2 linked regions of the Homo sapiens genome follow. The protein of the gene in region 1 purifies or fractionates together with the protein of each later gene. This does not show direct contact. Each region holds a gene or a part of one and is shown in the gene's direction. Other genes may lie near its edges.

Region 1 (7,776 bases):
AAAAACACACACACACAGAGGGTTATTTATCTGACAGCCCCAAACACGGTGGTATTATTGGCCTCTGGTTGAGGAAGGGATCTGGGGGCGTCCGCAGCTTCAGATAAAGGGGAGCCCTCGCCCGGGAGGGGTTTATCCCATCTGGCGGCTTCGCTCGTAGAGCGAGCGACTCCCAGGCCCTTGCGCCACCTGCTGGTGGACCTGCGTAGCCGCGCCCATTTCGGAGCAGGTGCGGAGGCCGGCCCTGGGGGGCAGGGTCTGGGTGTGGGGTCCCGACGGAGGGGGCCGGCGTCCCAGGACCCCGACGGAGAGCAAGGGGGTGCTGGAGCCCATCTCCCGCCTCTCGCGGCCACTCTGCTGTAACAAGCAGCTCGCACCACCAGGGACTCCTGGGTCCCGGGTCCCGCCCTCAGCCGTGACCCTCACCCGCTCCAGATGGGGAAGGGATCCTTCAAGTATGCCTGGGTGCTGGACAAGCTGAAGGCGGAGCGTGAGCGCGGCATCACCATCGACATCTCCCTCTGGAAGTTCGAGACCACCAAGTACTACATCACCATCATCGATGCCCCCGGCCACCGCGACTTCATCAAGAACATGATCACGGGTACATCCCAGGTGAGCAGGGCACAGCAGGCGGGGCTGGGGGAGAGGCCGCTGCACCCTTCAAGGGACACTGGGGGCCCCTGGGGTCACTGGGATGGTAGGGTCTCCTGTGCTTCCTGTGAGGGCAGGGGACCCCTCACCTGGGCCACCCTCACCCAGTCTGGCTCAGAGCCCCCCTAAGGATGAATCCAGTGCTCTGGCATCTGAACCAGTGCCTGTGAAGGCATCCAGCCAGTGTCAGAGTCCCCAGATAGATGGGGGCAGATGGGGACGTGGACACACCTTCATACATGGAGGGGTTGGAGGCCAGGATGGGGAGAGTGAGCAGTGGGCAGAGGTGCCACCCGCCAGGTGTAGACTGTATGACATTTCAGGGCACTCACAGAGACGCACGGACACCCCAGACACAGCACCCTGCAGACAGCAGGACACATGCCACCACCTCCAAACTGCTTTGATAACTGTGACTTCTATCCGTCCTCAAGTGAGGAACAGGAGCAGATAGGCTGAGTGACTTGTCCAGGGACACACAGCCCACTGGTGGTGGAGCCAGGGCTGAACCTCGGTCCCCTGACCCAGGGCCTGGCGATGAGCCCCCATGCTGCCCTTGAAGTGGGGACCCCCATGCCTCCCTCCCCAAGGCCCCAGTGGGCTGCTCAGGCCCCAGCCCGCTGCCTGGAGAGGCCTGGAAGTGAGGTGGGGCCAGGCTCGCTCTGTCCCCTGCCAGGCAGGCGGGGCAGGGCTCACTGTGTCCCCTGCCGGGCAGGCGGACTGCGCAGTGCTGATCGTGGCGGCGGGCGTGGGCGAGTTCGAGGCGGGCATCTCCAAGAATGGGCAGACGCGGGAGCATGCCCTGCTGGCCTACACGCTGGGTGTGAAGCAGCTCATCGTGGGCGTGAACAAAATGGACTCCACAGAGCCGGCCTACAGCGAGAAGCGCTACGACGAGATCGTCAAGGAAGTCAGCGCCTACATCAAGAAGATCGGCTACAACCCGGCCACCGTGCCCTTTGTGCCCATCTCCGGCTGGCACGGTGACAACATGCTGGAGCCCTCCCCCAACGTGAGTGGCGGCTAGGGCGGGGCGGGCCACGGGAGCTGGCTGGACCCCCTGGCCCAGAGCGAGGCACCGGCAGGTGGCACGGGGAGGTCGAGGGCCTGTCCCCGGGAAATGCAGGTTCCCCTCGAAACCTGCTGGGTTTCCCTAACTGGCTCAGGGCCCGGCGGGGAGCCCCATGCCCCTCAGCACCGGGCTTTGCTCCTACACTCAGCCTCCCACGCGGCTGGCCGGGGCCAGGGCCCATCTACGATGTCAACACAGCAGGGGCAGCGGCCTCCAGCACCAGGCCCATGTGCTTGGTCTCCAGAGCCCTGCCATGGGGGCGGTCGGTTTCATCTCTGCCAGGCCATTGTCCTGGTCCTGGACACCGTGCAGGGGCTTTGGGCTGGGCCGTGGGGGCCTCCTTGGCTGCCTCCCCTGGGATCTTGGAGCAGGGTTGGGCTTTGGGAAGTGTGCATGCTTCTGGGCTTGCTGGGATGGCCAAGGGTTGGCTCTTGGCCGGTCACCTGGGAGCTCAACGTGCGAACAGTCTGTAGCCCAGGGACTCTGCCTTGGCTGGAGGTGACGCGTGGAGACACTTGCAGAACCTGAGACTGTTCCCAGGGTTCTCCAAGCCAGAGGAGACCCCAGAATGGCCACCACTAGGCTCTGCCAGCACTGTCGCTGCCCACAGTGAGGGTGCAGGTGTGGAGTCTAGAGACAGCAGGGAGACAGACCAGCAGCACTGAGCCTGGAGCTGAGGTCTGGGGACAGAACTGGGAGGGACTCCCCCAGCTCCGCCTCCATCTCACGAGGCTCGGTGTTGTTTACCTGTGATGGCGTTTTCCTCATGGGGTATCATGTGGCGAACGCCACTCTCCCCTCCCCAGGGAGGCCTCCAGCCATCAGGGACCCTGCACTCCCCTCTGGCCTGAGCTGCTAGGTGGCTCGTGCTTACACAGGCCCTGGGGGGCTGGGGCACTGTGCTGCCGGCCCCCTCCCCTGCTCCCTGTTTGTGGCAGGTGGCCCAGAGGGAGGCTTCATGGGATGGGAGTGGGGGCCACACTAGGAGAAGCTCCGGACAAGGCTGGGCCAAGCTCGGAGGCAGCACGGTGTCCAGAAGCTAGGGTGGGGCGAGGCTCCTCCAGCTCTGTCCCTGGCCTGGCCCTTGGCCAGACTCAGCATCCTCCTAGTCAAGTCATCTGCCCTGCCTGGAGCTGATGGTCAGGGGCCCGGGGTTTCGGGGACTTGGGGCTGGACTGGGGATTTGTTCACAGTGTCAGCAACTCCTGAGCAGCCTGGGCTGGGAAGGGTGCTTTCCCTCTTTGTCCTCCTCCTTTTAAGAGGGATCTCCTTCCCAGAGTCCCTGTGATGCTGGGGCTATGGGCTGGGGAGGAGCAGGGTGGGGAAATTCCTCATCTCAAAGGGCACGAGGCAAGTTTAGCCTGAACAGCAGTACTCCTGGAAGCACCCTGGGGAGGCCTGAGGGTGGGGAGGCCACCAATGTCTCTTAACGGATTGATTTTCTCCCTTTGGTCCAGATGCCGTGGTTCAAGGGCTGGAAGGTGGAGCGTAAGGAGGGCAACGCAAGCGGCGTGTCCCTGCTGGAGGCCCTGGACACCATCCTGCCCCCCACGCGCCCCACGGACAAGCCCCTGCGCCTGCCGCTGCAGGACGTGTACAAGATTGGCGGTGAGCAAGGGCGCTGTGCTGGAGCTCCTGCCTGGCCAGCTCTGCCTGCCCTAGACCAGGGGCCCCTACAAGGCATCTCAAGACTGGGCTGTCTCCAATCTCTCCCCTTACCACACACTTTCTGTGGGACAGTCCATCCCACATCCATCCATCCATCCACCCACCTCCCCACCCATCCATCCTCTGTCCATCCATCCACCCATCCATCTATCCACCTCTCCATCCATCTATCTATCCATCCATCCATCCATCGATCCATCCATCTCCCCACCCATCCATCCTTCACTCCATCCATCCATCCATCCATTGTCCCATCCATCCTTCTCTCTATCGAACCATCCCTCCATCTCTCCATCTATCCACCTCCCCACCCATCCATCCTTCTGTCCATCAATCCATCCATCCATCCATCCATCCACCTCTCCATCCATCCATCCATCTCCCCACCCATCCATCCTTCTCTCTATCCATCCATCCATCCATCCATCCATTGATTGTCCCACCCATCCATCCTTCTCTCTATCCCTCCATCCATCCATCCATGCATCCATCCATCCATTGTCCCACCCATCCATCCTTCTCTCTATCCATCCATCCATCCTTCCATCCATCCATCCACCTCCCCACCCATCCATCCTTCTGTCCATCCATCCATCCATCCATCTCTCCATCCATCCATCCATCCATCCATTGTCTCAACCATCCATCCTTCTCTCTATCCATCCATCCATCCATCCATCCATCTACCCACCCATCCATCCTTCTCTCTATCCATCCATCTATTGACCCACCCATCCATCCTTCTATCTATCCATCCATCCATTCATCCACTCACCCACCTACCCACCCATCCATCCTTCTGTACATCCATCCATCCATCCATCCACCCACCTACCTATCCATCCATCCTTCCATCCATCCATTTATCCATCCATCCATCCATCCATCTATCCACCCACCTACCCACCCATACATCCATCCATCCACCTCCCCATCCATCCACTTCCCCATCCATCCATCCATCCATCCATCTCCCCATCCACCCATCCACCTCTCTATCCATCCATCTCCCCACCCAGCCATCCTTCCCTCCATCATCCATCCATCCATCTCATCCATCCGTTCATCTCCTCATCCATCCATCCATCCATCCATCCATCCATCCATCCATCCATCCACCTCCCCATCCGTCCGTCCATCCATCCATCCATCCATCTATCCCCCCATCCATCCATCCATCCATCCATCCATCCATCCATCTATCCATCCACCTCCCCATCCATCCATTCATCCACCCACCTTCCTACCCATCCATCCTTCTGTCCATCCACTCATCTACCTCCTCATCCATCCATCCATCCATCCATCCACCAATCCATCCATCCATCTCCCTACTCATCCATCTCCCCACCCATCCTTCTGTCCATCCACCTCCCCATCCATCTACCACCCCATTCATACATCCATCCATCCATCCACCCACCTCCCCATCCATCCGTCCATCCATCCATCCATCCCACCAAGAAGAGAAACCATAAACAAATCTGAGACCCTAGAGAAGGGCACTGATAGGAGACCCCCAGCCAGTGGGCTGCAGCCAAAGATGTTGCAGGCATCTCTGTGTGCACTGTGGGGGCATCATGCTCACCCCAGCACAGAGCACAGCCACTGGCCTCAGTGAAGTTGGCTGGAGGCTACAACAGGCCTCCCTCACAGCCCTGGGAGGTGAGGGTGGAGACCCAGTAGCCTGGGGGGGGACAAGACCCCCATGTGGCAGCTGCACAATTGGTTTAAGTAGATCCATGAGAAATGCCAGGGACGCTCATGTGCCGCTGTGCCTGTGCTGCATCTGGCTGAGAGGCCCCTTTAGTGATAGAGACCTGCAGCATCCAAGTGGGGCCCAGAGAGCCTGCAGGGAGCAGGGAGCAGGGCCTGCAGGGAGCAGGGAGCAGGGCCACCAGGCCCCAGGCAGAAGCAGTCAGTCGCCCCGCCCACACTCACAGGGAGGAGTCCTCAGACAAAGGAGGGGTCCCATAGTGCCTCCTTTGAGGGAAAGTGCTCTCCGGGGGCAAGGATGGGACCCCAGGTTCAGACAGCCCCTCTCTGCCCATCCTCCCGCTTCTCTGTCCCTGTGGCTTTTCCGTGGGTTCCTGGGAGCTCTGCTGCTCAGCCTCTTATTTCCCCAGCTGGGTGGGAGAGCCCCCACTTCCCTTGGAATCTCTGTGTCTGCCCTTGTCCCTGGCCTCCCTTCCCCTGCACTCCGCCCATGTGGCCCCAACCCCCAGGCCTGTCGGGGGGATCCAGTCCCAGGCTTTGTTGGTTTCCAGGCTCTGTCCCCGAATATCCTGCCCCAGCATCCCCTCGGGCCCCACCTTCCCCTCACACCCCCTCCCCTCTGCAGGCATTGGCACGGTGCCCGTGGGCCGGGTGGAGACCGGCATCCTGCGGCCGGGCATGGTGGTGACCTTTGCGCCAGTGAACATCACCACTGAGGTGAAGTCAGTGGAGATGCACCACGAGGCTCTGAGCGAAGCTCTGCCCGGCGACAACGTCGGCTTCAATGTGAAGAACGTGTCGGTGAAGGACATCCGGCGGGGCAACGTGTGTGGGGACAGCAAGTCTGACCCGCCGCAGGAGGCTGCTCAGTTCACCTCCCAGGTGGGGGGCTGCGCTGGGTCCAGGGGGCTGGCGCCTGCTGGACAGCAGCAGGACTGTCCTGGGTGAGGCTGCTGTCGGCAGGTGGCCTGGCGTGGGGAGAAAACCAGACCCTCAGGCTGGGCGCAGTGGTTCACGCCTGTAATCCCAGCACTTTGAGAGGCCGAGGCGGGCAGATCACGAGGTCAAGAGATCAAGTCCATCCTGGTCAACATGGTGAAACCCCGTCTCTACTAAAAATACAAAAATTAGCCAGGCGTGGTGGCACGTGCCTGTAGTCCCAGCTATCAGGAAGCTGAGGCAGGAGAATCGCTTGAACCTGGGAGGCGGAGGTTGCAGTGAGCCGAGATTGCGCCACTGCACTCCAGCCTGCGTGACAGAGCGAGACTTCGTCTCAAAAGAAAAAAAAAAAAAGAAAAGGGACCCGCATACCACCGAGGGGGCCACCGAGCACTCAACGAGGGGATCAATCAGTTCTGGGAGGGGTGCAGGCCCTGTGGCTCCCAGCCTGTGTGCAATCGCGGGTCTGTCTTCCACGCTGCACTGCTGGGATGCCCAGCCTTTGAGGTCCTACATTCGTCCTAGAAAAACGCTTTTGTTAACTTACTGTCTGAGACATCTCTGTCATACTTTTATTCTCTACAGTCTTCATTGCCCCTCTTTGCTGGCCTCTTCATATGATTTATTTATTTTTTTTTTGAGACGGAGTCTCGCTCTGTTGCCCAGGCTGGAGTGCAGTGGTGCGATCTCGGCTCACTGCAACCTCCGCCTCCCGGGTTCAAGTGATTCTCCTGCCTCAGCCTCCCAAGTAGGTAAGATTACAGGCATGTGCCACCACGCCTGGCTAATTTTTGTATTATTAGTAGATACGGGGTTTCACCATGTTGGCCAGGCCGGTCTCGAACTCCTGACCTCAAGTGATCCACGTGCGTCAGCCTCCCAAAGTACTGGGATGACAGGTGTGAGCCACCGTGCCTGGCCTCTTCATATGATTTTTAAAAGTGGCTTTATTGAGATACAACTGAAACACAGGAATTGAGGTCCAGTTTTGTCACCCCCCCGCCTTAGTTCCAGCTGGGGTTGGCCGTGTAAGTGCTGCCCCTGCCCCTTCGAAACAATGAATCTCAGTTGTTTATCTTTTGCTTAATGAGGATGTTGAGGTTCAGGTCTGGGGGCTGGGTCCTCAGAGCCTGAGCCCCCTCCAGTCAGCACTCCGGGCCCAGGAGCCCGTGCAGGGGCGCCGGTGACTGGGCCTCCCAGCCCCGCTCTGGCGCCCTCCCGGTGCCCACCGCCGATGTGCCTGATGGCCGCCTGTGGCTCCGCTCGCAGGTCATCATCCTGAACCACCCGGGGCAGATTAGCGCCGGCTACTCCCCGGTCATCGACTGCCACACAGCCCACATCGCCTGCAAGTTTGCGGAGCTGAAGGAGAAGATTGACCGGCGCTCTGGCAAGAAGCTGGAGGACAACCCCAAGTCCCTGAAGTCTGGAGACGCGGCCATCGTGGAGATGGTGCCGGGAAAGCCCATGTGTGTGGAGAGCTTCTCCCAGTACCCGCCTCTCGGTGAGCCGGGGTGGTCCGGGGAGGTGCAGCCCCCAGGCTGTGGCTGATCCAGGCTGAGGGCAGAGGACTGCGGGGATGGGGCGCTGGGGACAGCAGTGGGCCCCCTTTCCTGCGGAGCTTGGCCCAGAGCATGGCAGGAGAGCCACGGCCTCCGTGTCACTGAGTGCAGGTGACCCTGCCCAGACGAGCTGGGGTGGGCCCTGTGTGCAGACGAGGCCCCGAA
Region 2 (7,388 bases), on another chromosome or scaffold:
GGAAGGGCGAGGAGTTGGAGGATAGGGGCTTCCCTGGGGCCTTCCATGCAACTCACTTTCTTTTTTTCCTAGAAATGGCAGAATCACTGGGGCAGGGTCCTGCGGGAGAGGAGGGAGAGGGGGGAGGTCAGCATGGGCAAGACCTCGGGCATCTAAAATACCCCATCTGAAACCTAGTATGGCCGTCCAAGAGGGTCCCCAGCTGGCTGAGTCTGAATTTCTGCACCTCTCTCTAGGCCCCGAGGCTCCTGCCCTCCCAAAGACAGCTGCTCAGCTCAAGAAAGAGGCAAAGAAACGGGAGAAGCTAGAGAAATTCCAACAGAAGCAGAAGATCCAACAGCAGCAGCCACCTCCAGGGGAGGTGAGGCGAGGGTGGAGCTGGAAGGAAAGTTGATGTGTGCGGTGATGGGTTGGCTGATGCCTGGGCCTATGTCTTCTCCCTCCCAAGCAGAAGAAACCAAAACCAGAGAAGAGGGAGAAACGGGATCCTGGGGTCATTACCTATGACCTCCCAACCCCACCCGGGGAAAAGAAAGGTACTAGGAGTGGGAAGGGGCTCACCCCTCAGCAGCCCCTTCTAAGTTTTCACCCTATCTTGCTCTATTCTTGCTCTCACCACTTTGTTTGGTGAGGAATTGCAGACCCCCTGCCCTGCCTCTAGGCCCCTCAAATGCCTGTCCTATGATGTGAGTGACGGAGATCCCGATCCCTCTCTGCCAGCACGTCTCCTTCCCAGAGTGCTCCCAGCCACGGCACTGAGCCCTCCCTTCCTCTCCCCCAGATGTCAGTGGCCCCATGCCCGACTCCTACAGCCCTCGGTATGTGGAGGCTGCCTGGTACCCTTGGTGGGAGCAGCAGGGCTTCTTCAAGCCAGAGTATGGGGTGAGTAGGCACTGCTGCCCAGGCCCAGAGTGGGTGGGGTGGGGAAGGGCAGGACTGAAGGATGTGTTGCCTGGGAGGGGCTGGGAGAGGTGACCTGAGGCCTTAAACATGTGCCATCCTTCTCCACCATCAGCGTCCTAATGTGTCAGCAGCAAATCCCCGAGGTGTCTTCATGATGTGCATCCCACCCCCCAATGTGACAGGCTCCCTGCACCTGGGCCATGCACTCACCAACGCCATCCAGGACTCCCTGACTCGATGGTGAGCTTCTATCTGCACCTTCCTCTGGTTCCCTCTGCCTAGTCTGGCTCTCTCCTTTTCCCTGACAGCCCCCCGAGCCTCTCTCCTTCTGGGTTGGTGCTCACTTCTGCCCCCAGTGGTGCTACACTTCTCTCTGTCATTCCAATCTGATCATTTAGCTTCCTCTCCTAGTCCAGTACTCCCATGCAACACCGCCACTTGCAGACTCTCTTCTATCCCTTCTTTCTTTATTTAATTTTAATTTAATTTAATTTAATTTTTTGTAAAGATGAGTTTTCACTTTGTTGCTCAGTCTGGTCTCCAACTCCTGGCTCAAGTGATTCTCCTGTCTCAGACTCCCAGAGTGCTGGGATTATAGGTGTGAGGCACCACACCCAGTCTCTCCCTTCTTTTTCTAGTAACAATAACATTATTTTGAATTTAATTAGGAACATATGAATATATATATTTTTTTTTGGGGGGACAGAGTCTTGTTCTGTTGCCCAGGCCGGAGTGCAGTGACGCCATCTCGGCTCATGGCAACCGCTGCCTCCTGGGTTCAAGTGATTCTCCTGCCTCAGCCTCCCAAGTAGCTGGGATTACAGGAATGCGCCACCACAACTGACCAAAATATATGAATATATTCTTGTAAGAAATTTAAAGTTTCAAATCTCCTTGACCATCCCCCTCCACACCTACTTCCTCCTAAGATTTAGCCATTGTTATCACTTTGATGTGTATCTTCCCAGATCTTTCCTATTTACTTACATATACACGTACCCATAGAAATTTATAGTTCTCCTTTTGGGTGAGTCTTTTCTATTTTTTAACATAAAGGGTTCATATTACACTTGTTATGATCTAGCTTTCTTCTTACACTTAATACTTTCTCTTGGAGATCTTTCCTTGTCCTTACACACATACCACACATACTGACTTCCTTCTTTTTAATTGTTCCATAATATCTCATAGTGTGGCTGTACCATAGTGAAGTCATTCTTTTTTTTTTTTTTTTTTTTTTTTTTTTTGAGACAGAGTTTCACTCTTTTTGCTCAGGCTGGAGTACAGTGGCATGATCTCGGCTCACCGCAACCTCCACCTCCTAGGTTCAAGCGATTCTCTTGCCTCAGCCTCCCAAGTAGCTGGCATTACAGGCACCTGCCACCGCGCCTGGCTAATTTTTGTATTTTTAGTAGAGATGGGGTTTCACCATGTTGGCCAGGCTGGTCTCAAACTCCTGACCTCAGGTGATCTGCCTGCCTCGGCCTCCCAAAGTGCTGGGATTACAGGCGTGAGCCACTGCTCCCGGCCTGGAGTCACTTTTTAATTAATGATTCATTCTGTTTTTTGTTTTTTGTTTTTTTTCTGTTGAAAACCTTACTCTAATGCACATCCCTGTATATCAAGTTTGTCCAACCTGCAGCCTGTGGGCCACATGCGGCCCAGGACGGCTTTGAATGCAGCCTAACACAAATTTGTAAACTTTGTTTAAACATTTAAGAATTTTTTTGCGATTTTTTTTTTTTAGCTCATCAGCTATCGTTAGTGTTAGTGTATTTTTTTAAATTTATTTTTATTATTTATTTATTTATTTATTTTTTGAGACGGGTCTTGCACTGTCACCCAGGCTGGAGTGCAGTGGCACAGTCTCGGCTCACTGCAAGCTCCAAACTCCGCCTCCCACGTTAACGCCATTCTCCTGCCTCAGCCTCCCAAGTAGCTAGGACTACAGGTGCCCACCACCACGCCCGGCTAATTTTTTTTTTGTATTTTTAGTAGAGACGGGGTTTCACCATGTTAGCCAGGATGGTCTCGATCTCCTGACCTCGTGATCCGCCCGCCTCGGACTCCCAAAGTGCTGGGATTACAGGCGTGAGCCACTGCTCCCAGCCAGTGTTAGTGTATTTTATCTGTGGCCCAAGACAATTCTTCCATGTGGCCCAGGGAAGCCAAAAGATTGGATACCCCTGCTCTATATGCTTGCTGAAGCATGTGTGGAAGGGTTTCGCTGGTGTAGCTATCAAGAAGTGAAACTGCTAGGTCGGCAGGGGCACACCTATATTAAGTACAAACGGAAGCTGCCAAGTTGCCCTGCAGAATGGCTTTGCTGATTGATACCTCCAGGAATTGCTGTGAGAGTGTTCATTTCCCCACCCTTGCTAAGCCTGAGCATTAGGGTTGCCTAATTAGTTTTGCCAATCTGATGGGCAAAAAAATACCTCTGTTGTTTTACTTTGTACCTTTCTGATTGCTATTGAAGTTGTGCCTATTTTCATGTTTTTTGGCCAGTCAGGTTTACCCATATGTGAATTGTCTGTATCTATCTTTTCCCCGTTTTTCTATTGATTCTTCGTTCTTTTTCTTTTTAATTTTTTTTTTGAGAATTCTTTACCTGTTCTGGGTATCAATTTTTTTGTTAAATATTGTAAATGTTTTTGTTGTATTATTGTGTGGTAGTTTTCCTGTTAATTGTAAATGTTTCTCCTGTTTTCTGTTACTATTTGTTTTCACTGTTAATATTTTAATTAGTGATAAATACAAAGTAATATTCTAGGTGACAAATCTTTTTAAAAAGTATTTTAAAATAACTTTACCATTTTTGGAAACCAGGGTTTATTATATTTAAATTTTGAGAATTTTTTCTGGTGTCTTATGTACTAAATTAATGTGGTCAAAAAATATTTACTGGGCCCAACTATGTGCCACCTCTGCTCTGAGCACTGGGAATATAATGTTTGATTGTGCATTTTGCAAGTAACTGAGAGCTAGGAAAACAGTTATATGTTTTATTTTTTTATTTTTATTATTATTATTATTATTTTGAGACAGAGTCTCTCTCTGTCGCCCAGGCTGGAGTGCGGTGGCGCAATCTTGGCTCACTGCAAGCTCTGCTTCCCAGGTTCACAGCATACTCCTGCCTCAGCCTCCTGAGTAGCTGGGACTACAGGCGCCCGCCACCACGCCTGGCTAATTTTTTGTATTTTTTTTAGTAGAGACAGGGTTTCACCCTGTCGGCCAGGATGGTCTCGATCTCTTGACCTCATGATCTGCTCACCTCGGCCTCCCAAAGTGCTGGGATTACAGGCGTGACCCACCGCGCCTGGCCTGTTTTTTTTTTTGTTTTTTTTGTTTTTTTGAGACAGAGTCTCTCTCGGTTTCCCAGGCTGGAGTGCAGTGATGCGCGCTTACTGCAACCTCTGCCTCCTGAGCTCAAGCGATTCTCCTGCCTCAGCCTTCTGAGTAGCTGGGATTACAGGCGCATGCCACCACACCTGGCTAATTTTTGTATTTTTAGTAGAGACGGGGTTTCACCATGTTGGTCAGGCTTGTTTCGAGCTCCTGACCTTGTGATCCTCCCGCTTCGGTCTCCCAAAGTGCTAGGATGACAGGCATGAGCCACTTCGTCCAGCCAACAGTTCTGTTAAATACACATAACATACAATGGCCAAGTTGTTTGCGTTTGTGTTTGCGTTTTTGTTTTTTCAATTTTTCAATTTTTTTTTTTTCTTTGGAAATGGGGTCTTGCTCTGTCACCCAGGCTGGAGTGCAGTGGCGCAGTCTCTGCTCACTGCAAGCTCCTCCTCCCAGGTTCACACCATTCTCCTGCCTCAGCCTCCTGAGTAGCTGGGACTATAGGAGCCCACCACCACGCCTGGCTAATTTTTTTTGTATTTTTAGTAGAGACGGGGTTTCACCGTGTTAGCCAAGATGGTCTCGATCTCCTGACCTCGTGATTCGCGTACCTCGGCGTCCCAAAGTGCTGGGATTATAGGCGTGAGCCACCACGCCCGGCCCTGTTTTTCAATTTTTTAATAAAATCAAGAGAGGGTCTCGCTATGTTGCCCAGGCTGGTCTTGAACTTCTGGGCTCAAGCAATCCTCCTGCCTCAGTCTCCCAAAGTGCTGGGACTACAGGCATGAACCACCATACCTGGCCTCCAAGTTTGTTTACATGAAAACAGAATGACTACTTTTTTTTTTTTAATTGAGACAGAGTCTCGCTCTGTCGCCCAGGCTGGAGTGCAGTGACGCGATCTCGTCTCACTGCAACCTCAACCACTTGGGTTCAAGCGATTCTTGTGTCTCAGTCTCCTGAGTAGCTGGGACTACAGGCACGCACCACCACGCCCAGCTAATTCTTTTGCATTTTTAGTAGACAGAGTTTTGCCATGTTGGCCAAGCTGGTCTTGAACTCCTAACCTGAAGTAAGCCGCCTGCCTCGGCCTCCCAAAGTGCTGGGATTACAGGTGTGAGCCACTGTGCCTGGCCACATACTTCTTATAAAACTCTTAAGGTAGCCACATTTTTTTTCCAGTGAACGTGGTTTAAATAAAATGTGAGACACTCCCATTACTTTAATGGAATAGAGTTATATCAACTTTTTATTTTTATTTATTTGTTTATTTATTTATTTTTGAGACAGAGTCTCTCTCACTGTGTTGGCCAGATTGGAGTGCATCGGCATGATCACAGCACAATCATAGCTTGGTGCAGCCTCAACCTCAGCCACCCAAGTAGCTGGGAACAAAGGTGCACGCCACCATGCCTGGCTTTTTTTTTTTTTTTTTTGCAGAGACTAGGTCTCACTATGTTGCCCAGGCTAGTCTGCAACTCCTGGGCTCAAGCAGTCCTCTCACCTTGGCCTCCCAAAGTGTTGGGGTTATAGGCTTGAGCCACTGTGCCTGGCTTGAATTCTTTAATCTATCTAAAGTTTCTTTTTGTGACTATTGGTAAGGGGGAGATTTTTTCCAAATAATTAGCTAGTTGTTTCAAACATTTTGAATAGTTTATCCTTATTTTACTGATAGGAAGTGCCAACTTTCACAAACACTAAATTTGCTTGTATCTGTTTCCAGGTACTATTTTGTTCCTGTTTAGTAACTTATTTTAACAATTAGAACTTTTGCTATCCTGTTTGGCAGGAGCCTCCTCTTCGTTCTTTTTTTTTTTTTTTTTTTTTTTTTTTGAGACAGAGTCTCACTCTGTCATCCGGGCTGGAGTGCAGTGGCACAATTTCAACTCACTGCAACCTCCCCCTCCCAGCTTCAAGCGATTCTCGTGCTTCAGCCTCCCAAGTAGCTGGGATTACAGGTATGCACCACCATCCTGGCTAATTTTTATATTTTTGGTAGAGACAGGGTCTTGCCATGTTGGTCAGGCTGGTCTCGAACTCCTGTCCTCAAGTGATCCACTCGCCTTGGCCTCCCAAAGTCCTGGGGTTACAGGTGTGAGCCACCACGCATGCCTGTCTTTGTTCTTTTTCCATATTGCCTTGGCTCTTCCTTCAAATCTTTTCTCCTTGACTAGCTTTAGAATCACAAGGGTTCCAGCTCCACCCCTGCTTCTTTCTTTTTTTTTTTGTTTGTTTTTTGGAGACGGAGTCTCACTCTGTCACCCAGGCTGGAGTGCAATGGCATGATCCCAGCTTGCTGCAACCTCTGCTTCCCGGGTTCAAGCAATTCTCCTGCCTCAGCCTTCCAAGTAGCTGGGATTACAGGCACATGCCACCACGCCCAGCTAATTTTGTATTTTTAATACAGACAGGGTTTTACCATATTGGCCAGGCTTATCTTGAAGTCCCCACCTCAGGTGATCCACCCACCTCGGCTTCCCAAAGTGCTGGGATTACAGGCGCATGCCACCATGCCCAGCTAATTTTGTATTTTTAGTAGAGACGGGGTTTTACCATGTTGGCCAGGCTCATCTCGAACTCCCCCACCTGAGGTGATCCACCCACCTCAGCCTCCCAAAGTTCTGGGATTACAGGCGTGAGCCACCGCGTCCGGCCTCCCTGCTTCTTTATTTAGTCCACTGACTCCTTGCCTGAAGCCTCTGCTTTCTTTGGTGCCAGGCCCCACTGGCCTGGCTCACCCTCTGGTCCTCCATGCCCCCTAACAGGCACCGCATGCGTGGGGAGACCACCCTGTGGAACCCTGGCTGTGACCATGCAGGTATTGCCACCCAGGTGGTGGTGGAGAAGAAGCTATGGCGTGAGCAGGGACTGAGCCGGCACCAGCTGGGCCGCGAGGCCTTTCTACAGGAAGTCTGGAAGTGGAAGGAGGAGTGAGTATGCAGCATCCCTGTGGGCATCGCAGCCCTGCCTCCCTGTCCCCTATCCAGAAGACCTCTGTCACCTGTAACCCCTTGGCCACAGGGTCAGACCCTCCCACAGAGGCAGAGTCAGTTGGCTCTAGGGCCCAGGTAAATTTCAGGGGGATGGGTGATCTCCACACTGCCCAGTCAGCCACCTGATGTCTCCCTCTAGCC

What was found. The genes of interacting proteins can lie anywhere in the genome.
Region 2: the proteins of EEF1A2 (region 1) and VARS1 purify together in Homo sapiens (co-immunoprecipitation; 4 studies listed by BioGRID and IntAct, with this or other methods). This does not show direct contact.

Annotation. Positions count from the first base shown.
Region 1 is NC_000020.11:63,488,695-63,496,470, reverse strand, and holds part of EEF1A2 (elongation factor 1-alpha 2), read left to right. Parts: intron 1-435; coding exon 436-615; intron 616-1,369; coding exon 1,370-1,666; intron 1,667-3,183; coding exon 3,184-3,334; intron 3,335-5,735; coding exon 5,736-5,992; intron 5,993-7,318; coding exon 7,319-7,553; intron 7,554-7,776. UniProt on the Homo sapiens protein: Translation elongation factor that catalyzes the GTP-dependent binding of aminoacyl-tRNA (aa-tRNA) to the A-site of ribosomes during the elongation phase of protein synthesis.
Region 2 is NC_000006.12:31,785,365-31,792,752, reverse strand, and holds part of VARS1 (valine--tRNA ligase), read left to right. Parts: intron 1-236; coding exon 237-361; intron 362-448; coding exon of another isoform or gene 449-451; coding exon 452-536; intron 537-781; coding exon 782-882; intron 883-1,015; coding exon 1,016-1,143; intron 1,144-7,019; coding exon 7,020-7,184; intron 7,185-7,388. UniProt on the Homo sapiens protein: Catalyzes the attachment of valine to tRNA(Val).